Linked DNA regions of Homo sapiens: region 2 is linked to region 1. Evidence: fine-mapped expression QTL. A gene starts in region 1. The other region holds a variant in brackets. All regions are shown on one strand. Distances are between the middles of the regions. Region 1 holds the start of STEAP1B-AS1 (STEAP1B antisense RNA 1). Region 2 has its middle 27 kb from the start of STEAP1B-AS1.

What was found.
Region 2: its variant is fine-mapped to the expression of STEAP1B-AS1 in neural progenitor cells (Aygun 2021, PIP 0.90).

The regions. Positions count from the first base shown.
Region 1 is chr7:22,560,065-22,568,403 of GRCh38, reverse strand. It overlaps STEAP1B-AS1 (STEAP1B antisense RNA 1), which reads right to left and starts at 5,067. Exons shown (of 4, transcript NR_038393.1): 1 at 4,974-5,067; 2 at 3,252-3,438. RefSeq lists an enhancer at 4,541-5,042.
Region 2 is chr7:22,586,409-22,594,747 of GRCh38, reverse strand. No RefSeq gene overlaps it. Among named protein-coding and RNA genes, the nearest start is that of STEAP1B-AS1, 27 kb to the right of the region's middle. The variant G/A (reference allele first, on the strand shown) is at 5,082.

The sequences.
Region 1 (8,339 bases):
CTACAACAATTGAACTCATGGACACATGGACGAGATGGCTTTTGTTGTGTTTGAAAAAGGGTCAGCAGCAAAGGGGCCAAGAACATATATTGGTGAAGGACAGTCTCTTAAGTAAATGGTGCTGGAAAAACTGATATCCACATGCAGAAGAATGAAACTAGACCCCTGTCTCTCACCATATACACAAATCAAATCAAAGTGGATTAAAGAGTTAAATTGAAGACCTGAAACTATGAAACTACTAGAAGAAAACATTGGAAAAACTCTCTAAGACATTGGTCTGGGCACAGATTTATTGAATAAGACTCAAATGCACAGGCAACTAAAGCAAGAAATGGACAAATGGATTACAGCAAGCTAAAAACCTTCTGCAAAGCAAAGGAAACAATCAATGGAGTCAAGATATAACCTACAGAACATAAGAAAATATTTGCAAACTATCCAATTGACAAGGGATTAATAACTAGAATATCTAAGGAACTCAAACAACTCAATAACAACAAAAAATCCAATTTACGAATAGGCAAAAGATCTGAATAGACATATCTCAAAAGAAGACATGCAAATGGCCAAGAAGTATGTGGAAAAATCCTTAACATCACTAATCATCAGGGAAATACAAATCAAAACCACAATGAGATATCATCTTACACCAATTAAAATGGCTGTTATCAAAAAGACAGAAAGTAACAGATGCTGATGAGGATGAAGAGAAACGGAGCCCTTGTATACTGTTGGTGGGAATGGAAATTAGTACAACCACTATGGAGAACAGTATGGAGGTTTCTCAAAAAACTAAAAACAGAGTTACTATATGATCCAGGAATCCCACTGCTGGGTATATATCCAAAAGAAGGGAAGTCAGTATATCAAAGAGATATTTGCATTCCCATGTTTATTGCAGCACTGTTCACAATAGCCAAGATATGGAATCAACCTACAAGTTCATCAATGAATGAATAGGCAAAGAAAATGTGGCAGATATATATAATGGAATATTATTCAGCCATAAAAAATGAAATCCTGTCATTTGCAGCAATGTCAATGGAATTGGAGGACACTGTTAAGTGAAATAAGCCAGGTGCAGTGAGACAAATATCACATTATCGCTTATATTGTGGGAGCAAAACCCTTGATCTTATGGAGGTAGAGAGTAGAATGATGGTTATCAGGGGCTGGGAATGGTAGTGGGGAGGGGAGATAAGGAGAGATTAGTTAGTGGGTACAAAAATATAGTTAGATGGAAGGAGTAAGACCTGGTGTTTGGTGTCACAATAGGATGACTATAGTTAACAATAATTTATTGTATATTTCAAAATAACGAGAAGAGTGGCATTGGAATGCTCTTAAGACAAGCAAATGATAAATGCTTGAGGTGCTGGATACCTCAGCCATACACTGTATGGTTGTATCAAATTATCCCATGTACCTCAGAAATCTGTACAACTATTTTGTATTCATGAAAATAAAAATTAAGTTACTTCAAAAAAAAAAAGGTCGGCAGGATGCTAGTGGCCTCCCCCAGGGGGAATCCTGGGATGGTGTTTTCCCTTATTAAGATTCCACAGGGACAGGCACACCCCGAGTGAAAGCCACATCTAAGCCTTACTCAGGGTCCAGGTGTCAGTCAGACGAAACAGCAAGGTGTTTGTGTAGTGTTCATTCATTCAGTAAATATTTATCAACTGCCTACCGTGTGCCTAGAAACTGTTCTAGTCCTTTGGGATACATAGTGAACAAAATGGAAAAACAAAACACCTTTCTCTCATGGAGTTTACATTCTTGTGAGTGAGACAGGCAATAAATAGTAATCATTATAAATAAGTAAATTACCAAGTATGTTAGAAGGTGATAACCTTCTATATAGAGTTATGAGTTCATATAGAAGGCAAGGAATTGAGAGTACTAGCTTGGGGATCTAGGGCTTCCTCATTCTGGGGTCTGATTCCTGGAGGTGACTAGGCAGGGCTCAGCGGGCAGGTGATATTTGACCAAAGTCCTGAGGAGGTGGCAATAGCCAGCGCCAAGGTCCTAAGGTCGGGGGAGGTGCCTGGTGTGTCTGGGGAACAGCCAGGTGGCCAGCGTGGCTGGAGCAGTTAGAAGGAGGAGAGAAGTAGGAGGTGAGGTCAGAGGGAAAGTGCCTGGTAGTGCCTTTAGACCATTGTGGAGACTTTGGCTTTTACTTTGAGTGAAATGAGGAGAGCAATAGTAATGGAGGGATTGAGAAAGAGTCTGGTTCTGGATATATTTTGAAGCCAGCAGATGTCCCAATAGATGATAGCCTGGGTATTAGAGGAGGGGTACCAAGGTCAAAGACTACTCCATGGTGTTTGGCTGGAGCACCTGGGAGGATGGGGATGCTGTTCCCTGCATCTGAGACAGAATACTGAGACAGAAAGGTTCCTGTGGAAACGTTTGGGGGAAGACCCAGCCCTTCACATTAGACCTAGGAAGTTAGGGGAGGCTGTTGGACAGGAAGATGGAGAGGATGCATCGGGACTTGGAAATGTGGGTAGGGGTGCAGAAGAGAGGTCTGGGCAGGGTTCCTCAGAGGCAGGCGCTATTGAAAGCCAAGAGACTGAATGAAGTCACCAAGGGAGGAAGAGAAAGAAGGGGGTGGAGGACTGCACACTGGCCCTTCAGTGTGAAGATGCTGGGAAGGGGCAGCCGTGGAGACTGGGAAGCAGCAGCCACTGCTAGAGGAGGAGAGAGCAGGGTGTGAGCAAGTGGAGAACAGGTGTAGACAGGCAGAGGAGAAACAGCTTGGTCTGTCTGCTGCCCACAGTCACAAGCACAGGCACACCCCAGGGGAAAGTTGCCTCTGTGCCTTACTCAGGCCAGATAAAACAGTTTTAAGGAAGAGAAACAGCTTCTTTTTTCCTGCCATGAGGAGAGGGGGGGGGAAAAAAAAAAAAAAGACTGCCTCAGCAATTTGCATAATTGGGCCTTGTGAGAAAGATCCCTGTGAGTCCAGTACTGAAGGGAGTTGATTTTAGCCATAGCAATTAGTCATTCTCCCACTTCATGAGCTGTCTGTGTGTGGTTTCTAAACAGGCAGCATTTGTTTAACAAAATAATCAGCATCTCCATTTCCTCCGAATCATCCTTGAATCTAAAGATCATTTGAAAAAATGCTAGGCCATGCTATGGTGGCACTCCTAGGGGTGTCTTATTTCCATTTTCCTAATTTCAGAGGGAAAAAAGTAGATAGAGCCTTGATGCACAAATTTGAAAATAAAACCAACATTCACCTGTATGCACTGGCCCCTTCCTGTGCACCCTCCAGCCCTGTGGTCCTTAGAGCTGCTTCCTACAATATTCATGACTTAGAACAGCCCATTCTTAAAGCTGGTCCAACATTCTTCCATCGGCCTGTCCACACTCTCTGGTTTGCGCTGGATCCCCAAGGAAATGGGTTTGGCTGCCTCAGGCTGTGGTCTAGGGACAAAGGAAAACCAAAGTCTGAGTTCTGGGTAGATGTTGTCAAGAGACAGGAAACCACTCATGGCTTAATTCCAGGAGCCTGCAAGGTCAGGCAGTGGGTGAGTGCCTGTGAGCAGAGCCTGGAGAGATCTCTGAGGTAGCAGTGCCCTGGGAGTCTGAGCCTTGGAGGTGCTGAGTCTTTGGATGAGAGGGAACTGACAGAAGCTCCGGTCCATTCAGTCATTCAATATTCATCTACCCAATGACTCCCATGGCTCACGTCCTTTGCTTCTTCATGAATTAATAATGTTTATTTTATGATGTCGTAGAAACCAGACATAGCCTAAGCCTGAGAAGTCTGGGAATGGTAGATGGTATAGTGTTGGGGAAACCGCACTTGCTGTTGAGTCAGGCTGGCTTGGGTTCAAATCCTGGCCTGGCCAGTTTTACCTTAAAGGGTAGCTTAGCCTCCCTGGGTCCCTGTAGTTCCCTCCAAAGGGGCCATTATGATGCGTTCCTTGAGCAGCTGTTGTGAAGATCACGATGATACATGGAAAACACCTTATACAGTGCTGCTCACGTAGTAAGGACTCCATATATTGTAATGGTTATCATTTTTTGTTTGTCGTAGCAAGGTGTGGGTGAACTAAGGAGCCTAAATGAGACTTCCCATGCAGAGGCTGAGAAAATGAAAGGTTACTGCTCTAGAAGAGAGGTGGGGAGGGTGCCACAGGCAGGCTACTGTTCGCCCTATTTTGCCTTGGGCAGACATTGATGCCCTGTCCCCACAGTCCTTTCACTCCCGCTGGGAGATGGCTTCCAAGGTGTGGCTCCAGGCCAAGGCCAATTACTGGGGTTTGCCTGTGGGCTGTAACTTCTTTACCACAGTCACCCTGAGCAGAAAGCCAAGCGAGTAATTTCGGAGCGCTTGTGTGCTGACACCCTTTTTGATGAGGTGAAAGGATCTGACTCAAAGCTAGCCCTCGACAGTGAAAATTAAGAAGTGTTTCTAAGCCTGAGAGGCAGCTTTGAGCTGTGTCCTCAGTCAGGAACGCATGTTGAAAAGAAGTTTGAAAGGCTCTGAACTCTTCTAGATGGTCCTGAATAGACACTCCCCACAGTCCACGTCCCGGGAAGGGGTAGACACAGCTATGAGCAGCCTAGCTTGCCGAAGCAGCAGGGCTTCTGTGCCTGTGCACCTCTGTCATGCCTGGAATGTCCCTGGAAGAGGGGACTTGCCCTGCTCAGCTCCCTCCAGGGAAGTTACCTGCTTCTCTGTCTCCTGCCATCACCCGAAGCCCAGCTCTGCCCTGGCTTAGGAGACAGGAAGGGAGCCCAGTCCTCAGTTTCCTTCTCCAACTGCAGTTCAGCCTGTCAGAGCTGGCAGTGAGAACCTGGGAAGTGTATTTTCTGCCTCTTCCCAAGGGGAAGCCCGTGGTTTTAGTGCTCAGCAGAGATCCCCATAGGCTAAAAAGTCTTAGCACCGATGATGTTCACCCCCAGGTGCAGGATACTGAAAATAGATAATTAATAATAAACAAGTACTCTACCTGACAGCAAGTGGGTAAGGGGTGACAGCCAGCGGAGCGTTGGTTTCCGATTCCTTCCTAATGTGGTTGCTGCTGGGCGGCTCTGCTGCTCGTTAGACAATCAGAGCTGCTGCCCTGCTAGTGTACGGTGGGGGGTGGGGAGCACAGCCATGGCGTGTATTTGCTGATAACTCAGCCCAACTCAGGTCCTTTTTAAATGACACTTCCTGATGCACGACCTTTTTCCCTGCAACACCTCTCCTTCAAAGACCCAGAAAACAAACACTGAGAATGAAGCCAGCCTGCTGCTTCCTGACCCTGGATGGATCCTTCCATATTCCAATATCACAGTCACGTCTGCAAACATCCATTCTATTAAAGCAGTATGCAGATGTAGGTCAGAATACAGAGCAGCAGATGTGTAGAACAAAGAAGTCTAGGGATCTAATATACAATATGAAGACTAAAAGAAAAAAAGAGCAGCATACATTTTGTGAGACATACTTAGAAAAGCAGCAAACCCGGGAAAATGAAGTAGGAGGCACAGTGGTTTCACTTGATCAAATCAGCTTCTGAAGCTGTATTGTGAGGGGGCAGGGAAGGTTGGAACCCTCAAGCATTATTTGGGGGAGTTCACAGGTTTTAAATAATTCCATAAGACTGATAACACTTTAATGAGTCCCTAACCAAGAATGAGATTGTTGTGGATTCACTGAATAATCATGGAAAATAGACAATTTCTATGAAAAAAAGTGAGCATGCTATGGGAGTTGATAAGGTAACAATGGACACAGCGATACCGTGTAAAGGCTCAGGTTTTTTCTCCTAGCATTTTGGATGCCTCACCTACATGTAACTGATAATAATCTGCTTCTTTGTACCAAGAACCACATGCAGCCTCTTCCATACACTAGCTCATTGATTCCCAATAACAATCGTACACAGGATGTATTATTTTCCCCTTCTTCAGAGGGCAGAACAGGATCAGAGAAGTTTAGAAACTGCCCTCAGTCACCCAGTAGGGAATGGAGCTCAACTGTGAACCCTGGAACTCCTGACTCTGAAATCTGCTTTTTGACTGGCTGACCACACAGCTTCCCAATGACAGCAGACAGGAGAGAGAGGAGGGAGGGAGGGAGGGAGGGAGGGAGAAAGGGAGAGAGAGAGAGAAGAAGAAGAAGAAGGAGGAGGAGGAGGGGGAGGAGGAAGAGGAGGAGGAGGGGGAGGAAGAGGAGGCGGAAGGGGAAAAGAGAACAGAAGGGAAGAGGGAAGAAAGAAACAGAAAGAGAGAACGAGTGCGCCCAAGCTGGAGCCAACAACTCTCCATACCCTCGGGTCTCCCTTCACAGGGCCTCTTCTTTCTGTGGCTCTGTGGTTCTCTGTCTTAGGATGCATTCTCACAATCACCTGGAGGGCTGGTCACAGTCCAGATTGCTAACTCCACCCCTAGATAGAGTTTCTGATCTCTTAAGTCTGCACTGGAGCCTGAGAATTTGAATTTCTTAGCTGTTCCCAGATATTGCAGGTCTGGGGACTCCACTGAGGACCACAGCTAAGTATAAACCTGCCTTTCTTGGAGCACAGTACTAGTACTGCAGAGAAGCTGCTTTAACATACTCTTTCTTATTCTTATGTATAAATTGACAACAAACAAACAAATATGGTTTTGTTTAACAATGAACCATCAAGCTTTCCTTTGTTGTAAAAGTAGAGATTTCACCTACTGCACAGGTTCAGTAAGCCCCGCGGCGGGCGGGGGGACTCCACATACCAGCAACCGTCTGCAGGAACCACGTTTTTTTCCTATGTGAAATGCCCTCTGAGAGCCGGCAAGTGACTAACATCCAGTCTGTCTCAGAACTCAACCTATTTGGAGAGTGGGTGTTCACAGCCAGCATGTGCTCAAGTTGGAACTCTCCCATGGATAAACTGTTATTAAAGCACTGCAGCGGCTGCAGGCTCAAGGACGTTTCTCTTCCAGGCCTGGCTGCCAGGATGTGAGGCCCGGGTGGAGGAATGCGCTTAGAATTCCATGCGGTCAAGAATTCTTCCCTTGAGCCCTGTTAGGCTCTGCTTCTCCGATTTCCACTTTCCCCTCCATTCTTGCCAAAGCTATTTACATCCTCTAACCAATGCTGTCTAATAGAAATATATTGTGAGCCACATATATAATTTAATATTTTTAGTAGTCACATTAAAAACATGAAAAGAAGCAGGTGAAATTAATTTTAAGAATATCTTTTATTTAACGTAATATATTTAAAAAATCATTTCAACATGTAATTAGTATAAAAAGCTAGGAATAAAATATTTTACATTATTTTTCCCTTATGGAGTCTGCGGAATCTGGTGTTATTTAACACTGACAGCACATCTCAGTGCAGAACAGCAATATTTCAAGTGTCCAGTAGCCACATGTGGCCGGCAGCTACCATATGGGAGAGTGTAGCTCTTTCTGCATTTAACTGCTTTGCGAGTTCAGAACCTAGAAAGAACCACTATGTGAAAGGCAGAGACAGCCAAATATTCATAGCTAAGCGCTGGTGTTATGTTTATTAAACATACAGATGCAGGTAGCCACAACAGGGCTGTGCCTCAGAATCAGCTGGAACACCTGTTAAGATAACTGCGGCCGGTGTGGTGGCTCACGCCTGTAATCCCAGCACTTTGGGAGGCCAAGTTGGGCAGATCACTTGAGATCAGGAGTTCGAGACCAGCCTGGCTAACATGGTGAAACCTCGTCTCTACTAAAAATACAAAAATTAGCTGGGTGGGGTGGCGTGAACCTGTAATCCCAGCTACTCAGGAGGCTGAAGCAAGAGAATCGCTTGAACTTGAAAGGTGGAGGTTGCAGTGAGCTGAGATCGCACCACTGCACTCCGGCCTGGGTGATAGAGCGAGACTCCGTCTCAAAAAAAGAAAAAAAAAAAAAAAAGAAGAAGATAACTGCCTGTACCTAATCGTATACCTACTTAATCAGAATGGGCTATGAGAGAGGGAATCTGCATTTTTAATAAGCACGTCGGGTAATTTTGCTGCATCCAGCCTAGGACTTTCCACAGAAGAACATTTCTGAATCACCAGACAGAGAAGTATGAAATCCCACCTGGGGTGCCAGGCTAAAGGAGAGAGGCCGCACAGCATCCAGCTCCTCTTCCTGTCTGCCATGCAGTCTAGTTTTACTCATACTTGAAACCTGATTTGCATGGATATGTGTTCTTAACAGAGAAACATTTTGATCATTTGTCAGGTTTAGATTACCATCCAATTTATAGAATAAATGCAGTTCACGTGGCTTTCCCATCTTGCTTTTGTGATTGAATTTAAAGTTTACGGGCCCCCTGTTTATATAGAGATTTGTATGCCGGTGCTGCCACCTTGTGCTGG
Region 2 (8,339 bases), 26 kb before region 1:
ATCCTTCTGCCTCAACCTTCCAAGTAGCGAGGATCACAGGCATGCAACACCATGCCCAGCTATTTTTTAAAAAGTTGTTATAGAGATGGGATCTGGCCACATCGCCATCACCCAAATAGTCATTTTATCCCTACTTTCTCCTTTAACTCTAATGAAGTGGTTCTCAAACTTTGCCGTTTGGAATCACCTGGGGAGCTTTTAAAAATCCCAGTGCACAGGTTGTACCCCTTACCAACTAAATCAGAATGTTCAAGGATGGGAACCAGACATCAGTATTTTGTGAAGCTCTTCAACAAAGTTTGGAACCACCACTGTAGTGTTTCTGGTTCATGCTTATTCTTAGGGAGGACCTCAGTGTTGCAAGTTGAGACCACCTGCATCGGTGAACAGAGCTTACCTCTCAGAACTAAGCACTATGACCATCTCTGTCAACATGACAACTATTCTTTCCAGGAAATTATTGTCTGTAAATCAGTAAGTAACTTCCCTATTTGTTTTTGGCTGGGCAAATAGTTTGCTCACCTGGGAAAACAGCTGTCTTCTCTGGACAATAGATTGTTTACCTTGGCAAACAGTTCGCTTGTCAAACCACTGTCTGCTTATCCAAAACTTGATTTTTCACCTTGCCCTGTCCACCAAGACTAAACAATCATGTCATGAATTTTGTTGATTCCCAATCAGATCCCCATTTAAAATATTCACCTTGAGAAATCCAAATCAAAACCACAATGAGATACCATCTCATACCAGTCAGAATGGCAATTATTAAAAAGTCAAGAAACAACAGATGCTGGTGAGGCTGTGGAGACATAGGAATGCTTTTACATTGTTGATGGAAATGTAAATTAGTTCAACTATTGTGGAAGACAGTGTGGCAATTCCTCAAGGATCTACAACCAGAAATACCATTTGACCCAGCAATCCCATTATTGGGTATATAGCCAAAGGAATATAAATCATTCTATTATAAAGATACATGCACATACATGTTTATTGCAGCACTATTCACAATAACAAAGACATGGAACTGACCCAAATGCCCATAATGATAGACTGGATAAAGAAAATGTGGTACATATACACCATGGAATACTACGCAGCTACAAAAAGGAATGTGGTATCATGTCCTTTGCAGGGACATGGATGAGACTGGAAGCCATCATCCTCAGCAAACTAACACAGGAACAGAAAACCAAACACCACATGTTCTCACTCATAAGTGGGAGTTGAACAATGAGAACACATGGACACAGGGAATGGAATAACACATACTGGGACCTGTCAGGGGGTGAGTGAGGGGAGGGAGAGCATCAGGACAAGTGGCTAATGCATGTGGGGCTTAAAGCCTAGGTGACAGGTTGATAGGTGCAGCAAACCACCATGGCACACGTATGTAACAAACCAGCATGTTCTGCACATGTATTCCAGAACTTAAAGTAAAAAAAAAAAAAAAAAAAAAAAAAAAATTTACAAGACATAGGAAAAAAAAAGATTTGCCTTAAACCACTTGAACCCAGACCCACAAATCCCTGTAAATATCTACCCCTTAGTTTTGCTTGGTTCTAAGGGTTTTCTATGGTCATTTGGGGAGCTGGCGTTTGACAGTGTAACTTCACTGACCTCATTTTACAACTTTAGGCTAGGATTCTGACCTCAGTCATATGAATCCCATCCTTTCCTAAAAATCTGGATCCCTCAGCCACTCTTCCCTTTGAAACATCCTCTCTCTTCTGATTCTTTTTCTCCTATCATCCTGTGTACTGAGATTTGCCCACATTGACATGATCTTCATTTGAACCTGGTGGTTCTTTTCACTACAGGGCAACATTCTTTCCTCTACAGGGCAACATTCTTTCCTATCCAAATACTTGAATACATCAGGCACCACCACTGCCTCACCTTCCTGGGCAGCCACATCTCTCCTGGCTTTCTTCTCACTCATCACATGTCTAAACCTTTTCTCCTACATCTTGCTAATGACCTCTTTATTGCCATATTTAATAGACTTTCATCAGAGTTTGATGACTCTATCAGGATGTGGCACTGTTATTTCGTCTCTCTCTCGTTTTTTTTGTTTTTGTTTTTGTCTCCCATGACATGTCACTTTCCTAGTGTCACTACCTCACTCTCATTCTCTCACTTCTCTCTCTCCTTCTTACCTTTTCTCATTCCTCTTCCCTGCCCTACTTACCAACTGTGAGTACCCTCCAATACTGCAGTCTGCTTACATACCTTCCTTGAAGGCATTTATTTTCATGGCTTCAACCCACACCTCGAGAACAACATCCACGTCAGTAAATCAAGCACAGGAGATAGCAGACACTTCACAGACAAACACCCCTGGATTCATTCATCACGTAGCTGATGAGGATGAGCACATCATTTCCAGGGAATGTCTCATAGGACTAGATGGAATTGCCAGCGGAATCTGCATCTGGATGTGAGAAGGGTAGGACTACCCAACAGTGGCTCCATAACCTAGAGCAGGGCCTGCCCCCATGATACCTGGTACATTCCCATGACTGTCAATCCATTCCAGCAGTACTGGCTGCAGGACACCAACCTCAGATCTTTGGCTGACACTCAACATAACTGGAATAGAGTTTATAAAAAGAAATGGGAAATGCCCTCTTTTTTTTTTTTTTTTTTTTTTTGAGATAGAGTCTTGCTCAGTCACCCAGGTTGGAGCACGGTGGCACAATCTCAGCTCACTGCAACCTCTGCCTCCCAGGTTCAAACGATTCTCCCTGCCTCAGCCTCCCGAGTAGCTGGGATTACAGGCGCCTACCACCACACCTGGCTAATTTTTGTATTTTTTAGTAGAGACAGGGTTTCACCATGTTGACCAGGCTGGTCTTGAACTCCTGATCTCAAGTGATCCACCCACCTTGGCCTCCCAAAGTGCTGGGATTACAGGTGTGAGCCACTGCACCTGGCCAAAATGCCCTCTTTAAAAAAAATTTTTTTTTTAATTTTTGCGGGTACATAGTAGATATATGTATATTTATGGGATACATTAGATGTTTTGATACAGGCATGCAGTATGTAAAATCACATCATTGAAAGGAAATGCCCTCTTGAGAAGAGAGAGGGTAACATGAGTGGTCGGGAAACATGAGTGATCTTTTGTTGTAGCAGGGACACAGTGACTTTCTTGCCCTGAGGTAGTCATATCATAGGAACTGACTTAGAGATGGAAGAAGAATCCTCAGAGGACATGTTCATGAATTACCCCTGAAATAGTTTTGGAGACATTCATAACTGCCCTTGGGCAAGTCATATTGATGTTTCATCCACCCATCCAGTAATCATTGTTCAACAAATATGTTGACAGTAACTTTTTAGCAGGCATGTACTAAATGTTGGTGATACAACATCAATAAATGTGTCCCCTGCCTCCCAAGAGCTTGCACTCTGGCACTCACACAACCACATGTTAGACATGTGCAGAACCTAGAGTTAGACAGACCGGAGAGAGAGATAGAATCAGATGGATTTGCTGGCAGAATCGGCATCCGGATGTGAGCAGTGTAGAACTGCCCAACAGTGGATCCATAACCTGGAGTGGAGACTGTTCCGTGATACCTGGTACAAAAAGGTATTGTTAGTTATAATAGCATTTAATGTTTCACAAAGTGTTTTCATATTCATTCTCTCATTTAACATTCATAACAGCCTAATAAGACAGTCAGATAAAATAGTGTTGACTTAATTTTACAGAAGAGGGTATCAAGGCATAAAGAAGTCATGTGCAAAATCATGTGTCCAGCATATGGCTGAGAACTGAGCAGGAACCCAGGTGACCAGGTGGAATGTTCTGCTTTTTCTATTACCTCAGGCTGACTTCCAACCTCGGGTTCCTCATCCATATAAGGAACGTGCTAGGCTGGTGGTTTTTCTTTTCTTTTTCCAATAGTTGCTTTAACTATAAAAATCTGACTCTATAACAAGTTCCCTTCTCCAGGGACTGTGGAGGGACAGATAAACCAAAAACTAACAACATTGTTCCCCTTCCTACTGCACAGGATTGTTGTAAAGATTACATTATACAATCCACTAATCCATTGAAAACACTTTGTGATTCAATAAACTAGATGCAATCTTAGGACTTTGTGTTTATCACTTTATTAAAGGCACTTCTCCAGGTTCTCAGTAGTTTTCCAAGTACCTGCCTCTCCCAGGAGACTACAAGGGCAGAACATGTTATACCTCATCATTAACAATCATATTATCCACATGAATTTTTGAGAAAACAGTGAATAAAATGAGGTTTAGAAAGGGAGGTCACTAGATCCCTGTGCTGTGTTCCTTTTACCTCAATGCACATTTTTGTGTTTCTCAAAGTACCTAGCTCAGTACGTTGGTGGAAATTCATAGTGGAAGTTCAACAACTATTTATAAGATGGGGTTGATGGCGGAGGAGAGGGAGAATGAGGAGGCAGGAGGAGGAAGAAGAAAGAGAAAAAAAGAAGGAAAAGCATCAGAATTCATAAAAATGCTTTTATCTCCGTAGATGTGAGTGCCAAGACTTCATTTGTCTTGGCATCCTCATATTTTCTCAGTATCCCAAATAAGCATGCCAGTAGAGCAGGTCTGCCATGGGAGAGGGTGCCTAGGAGTTCTCATGACGACATTGTGTTCCAGAAAATCACAGCAGCAGCGGCAGCGACAGCAATAGCTGCCCCCACATTCCTCTGGAAAGGCTGGAGCTTTGCTTTGTGTTGTTTTAGGCTTCCTTCCCCAGGAAGCATTATTGGAAGGAAACACTCCACCCCGACCCTCCCAGCTCCCAGTGCTGGCTTGTGGTCAGTAAAGTAAATGTAATTTTTGCCTCTTAAGAAATGTGGGACAAGAGACTGCATGGAGCACTGCCAACGTGACAGTGGAGGTGCGTCAGTGGGCTCGGTGACAGGTGGCAGAGGCCAAGGGTCTGGGGAGTCACTTACAGTCACGGAGGCTTTCTCTCCCAGCCATTGTCCATTGATGGGAATGAGGTAGTGGGCAGCCAAGCCACACAACGGGAGCCTGGAGAAAGAAGTCTAGGGCAATTTGCACATGAATTTCCTTCTTTAAATAGCTAC[G/A]CAATAAGTCAATATCCCTAGGAAGAAGTTGCTTATTGGCTGCCTTATTCTTTTTTTTTTTTTAAGCGAGTCTCTTAAAGACACTTATTTTGGCCTTACATGCACTTAATCAGGCTTGTCTTATTCTTTTAATTCTGAAGTTCTACTGTTCAACAGTTAGGAAGGAACTGGCTTTGCATCTGGAAACAAGAGCAGGCACAAAGACAATGAGATAGATGGTGGGCTTGTTTTGCAGACGTGTGTTAGAGAGAGAGCACCACTCATGCATAGAAGAGAGGTTTGAAAGATTGGACATACAAAGTGGAGTCTAGGCCAGGCATGGTGGCTCACACCTGTAATCCCAGCTACTCTGGAAGCTGAGGCAAAAGGATTGCTTGAACCTGGGAGGCGGAAGTTGTAGTGAGCTGAGATTGAGCCACTGCACTCCAGCCTGGGCAACAGAGCAAGACTCCGTCTCAAGAAGAAAAGAATGATCCCAGCACTTTGGAAGGCTGAGCAGGTGGATGACCTGAGGTCAGGAGTTGAAGACCAGCCTGGCCAACATGGTGAAACATCTCTACTAAAAATACAAAAATTAGCTGGGTGTGGTGGTGCGTGCCTGTAATCCCAGCTACTCGGGAGACTGAGGCAGGAAAATTGCTTGAACCGGGAGGTGGAGGTTGCAGTGAGCTGAGATCATACCACTGTACTCCAGCCTGGGCAACAGAGTGAGACTCTGTCTAAAAAAAGAAAGAAAGAAAGAGAGAGAGAAGAAAGAAAGTAAAAATAAAATAAAGAGGTCTAGCTGGCAGCACCAGGGCCATCAGCCAATAGTGGGATTAGGGATGGCTACTACTGGAAAAAACTGCACACTGGGATTGCCTCTTGTTCAATATATGACATCTGCATTGATTCTAAATCCTCCCTACATGGAATTAGGCAATGGTGTGCTGTTAGCTTGCTCTTTGAAAAGAAAGAGAGGAAGAAAAAAGATCCTGGTCTGTAATATCAGCCAATATTTCAGTGTAAATATTCTGACTGTGGCCAGCTTCCAGCTACCAAGATTGACCTGCTCAAAAGATTCCTGAATATTTAACAACCAGCTCTCTGGGGCTGGTACCCACAGCTCCAGCATACCACTGGCTAAGATACAGATTGCTACTCACCACTTCCAGCTTTGGCTTTGCCACTATTAGATGTATGCTCTGTAGCAAGCTCTTAATTTCCTCAAACTGCAGTTCTCTTTTGAAAAATGGGAGCTGAGATGATGCAGTAACGATATTTAGAGTCTCTGCTGAGCCTACACCACTCTTCTCTGAGAACCGCATCCTTCCTGGTGCTCCCTACTGGTGCCATATTCCACCTGATTTTTCAACTTCATTTTGGAGTCTAGCAGATATCCCAACTGCTTCCAATAAATGCCCTTCTGCACTCAGGCCAGTCTGAGTGGGATTTTGTAAGTTGCAACCAGCAGCGCTCTAAGTAAGGCAGAAATGATTTCCAAGGCCTTTGTGAGTTCTGATATTGCACCATTTGTTCTCAGAGTGTGCTGCCGACCAGCAGCATCAACTTCACCTGGGACATGTTGGAAATGTCAGTTCTCAGGGAACCACCGCAGACCTATTAAATCAGAAACTCTAGGGATGGGACCCAGCAACTTGTGTTTTTACAAGCTTTCCAGGTGATTCCCATGTGTTCTCAAGCTTGAGAACTGCTGCATCACTGTTCTAAGGATGGTATGACTTATTTGAGAAAGGCATTTTCAGACTGATCCAGTTTTCTTTTCTGATTAATGAAGGCCAAAAGTTAATGTTTTACTGGTAAAAAAAATTGATTTTTATAAACGAAACATATTACTATTACAACTTGAAAGACATCAATTTCCTTTTCTCCTTCTTTCTTATTTTAGTTTCAATGGACAGAGACTGACGTTTCAAAGACTAGCCTAAAAGAATATAAGGAGAAGAAAAGTGTAGAGAATGAAAATACTGCCAATAAATAAGCGGAAATAAAAAATATGCACCAGATAATTTCAAGATAGTGAAGGCCAGAAAGAAATACAGAACAGGAAGCCCAGATGCTGTGTGGTTTTTGCATTGGAAAAGATTTCACAAAATGTGCCATTAACACATTGAGTGACTAATCATTTCTGGCATTAGGAAACCATTTAAGAGTCCACTAATGATTGATTTACATAAGTACAGTAAAAAGTGAAACAGGAAACTTTGACTTAACTTCATCCTGACATATATCAAAAGCACAGTTTTCACTGTAAGATTTGGAGAGATGTGGCTAGATAGCAATTTTCACTATAAAATAGTCTTGAACAGACCATTCGAATGGATAGAGCTTGTTGGTAAGCTGGTTGTTTGAAACTAACACTTTTTTTTGTATGGAAAATCATGCCTTTGGAGAGCAGACTGCAGACTGGACGATGGAATCCTTAATGGAAGTAAACTGGAGGGCTGGTAATTGGTAATCATGCAGGTGATTGGGAGGAGAGGGGCCCAGGAGAGGAGCTGCACTGGGTAGAGAGGGGAGAGAGGGGAGAGAGGGGAGAGAGAGAGAGAGAGAGAGAGAGAGAGACAGAGAGAGAGACAGAGAGAGAGACAGAGAGAGACAGAGAGAGAGAGACAGAGAGAGAGAGAGAGAGAGAGAAAATTGGGGAAGGACAGAGTCCTCTAGTGGGAGGAATGCAGTCTGAAAGGGGCTCCCTTTCCAGAAATGTCAACAGTATGGGGCCTGAGGGTAGAGGAAGGTTCTGCAGCTGAGTGACTGAGAAAAACAAACTGTATTTTTCACCATGCTTACACTCACACTTCACTTCTGGCTGCCAAATGTATAGGGGTTATTCTGTGTGGGAATAATTCTCCAGTTCTCTGCAGACACCAACTGGATGTCCAACTCCAGGCTGCACTGATGAATACAGAGCACAGACCCCACAAGACTGCCCCTACTCCAGTGCCAGTAGTAAGTCCCAGCTTGTGATCTGTACTCTGAATCAAGGGTTCCCATGACCCCCTTCTCAGGTTCAGTCATTTACTAGAACAGCTCACAGGGCTGGGAAACACTTAATGTTTACTGGTTTATTACAAAGGCTACAGATAAACAGTCAGATTAAGAGATACACAGGGTGAGGTCCGGAATGGTGCAGGGCACGGGAACTTCTGTCCCTGTGGAGCTGGAGTGTGTCAGCCTCCCAGCACATGGACGGATTCTTATTCACAAACCCAGAAGCTCTTTGAGCCCTGTCCTATTGGGTTTTTATGGAGATTTCAC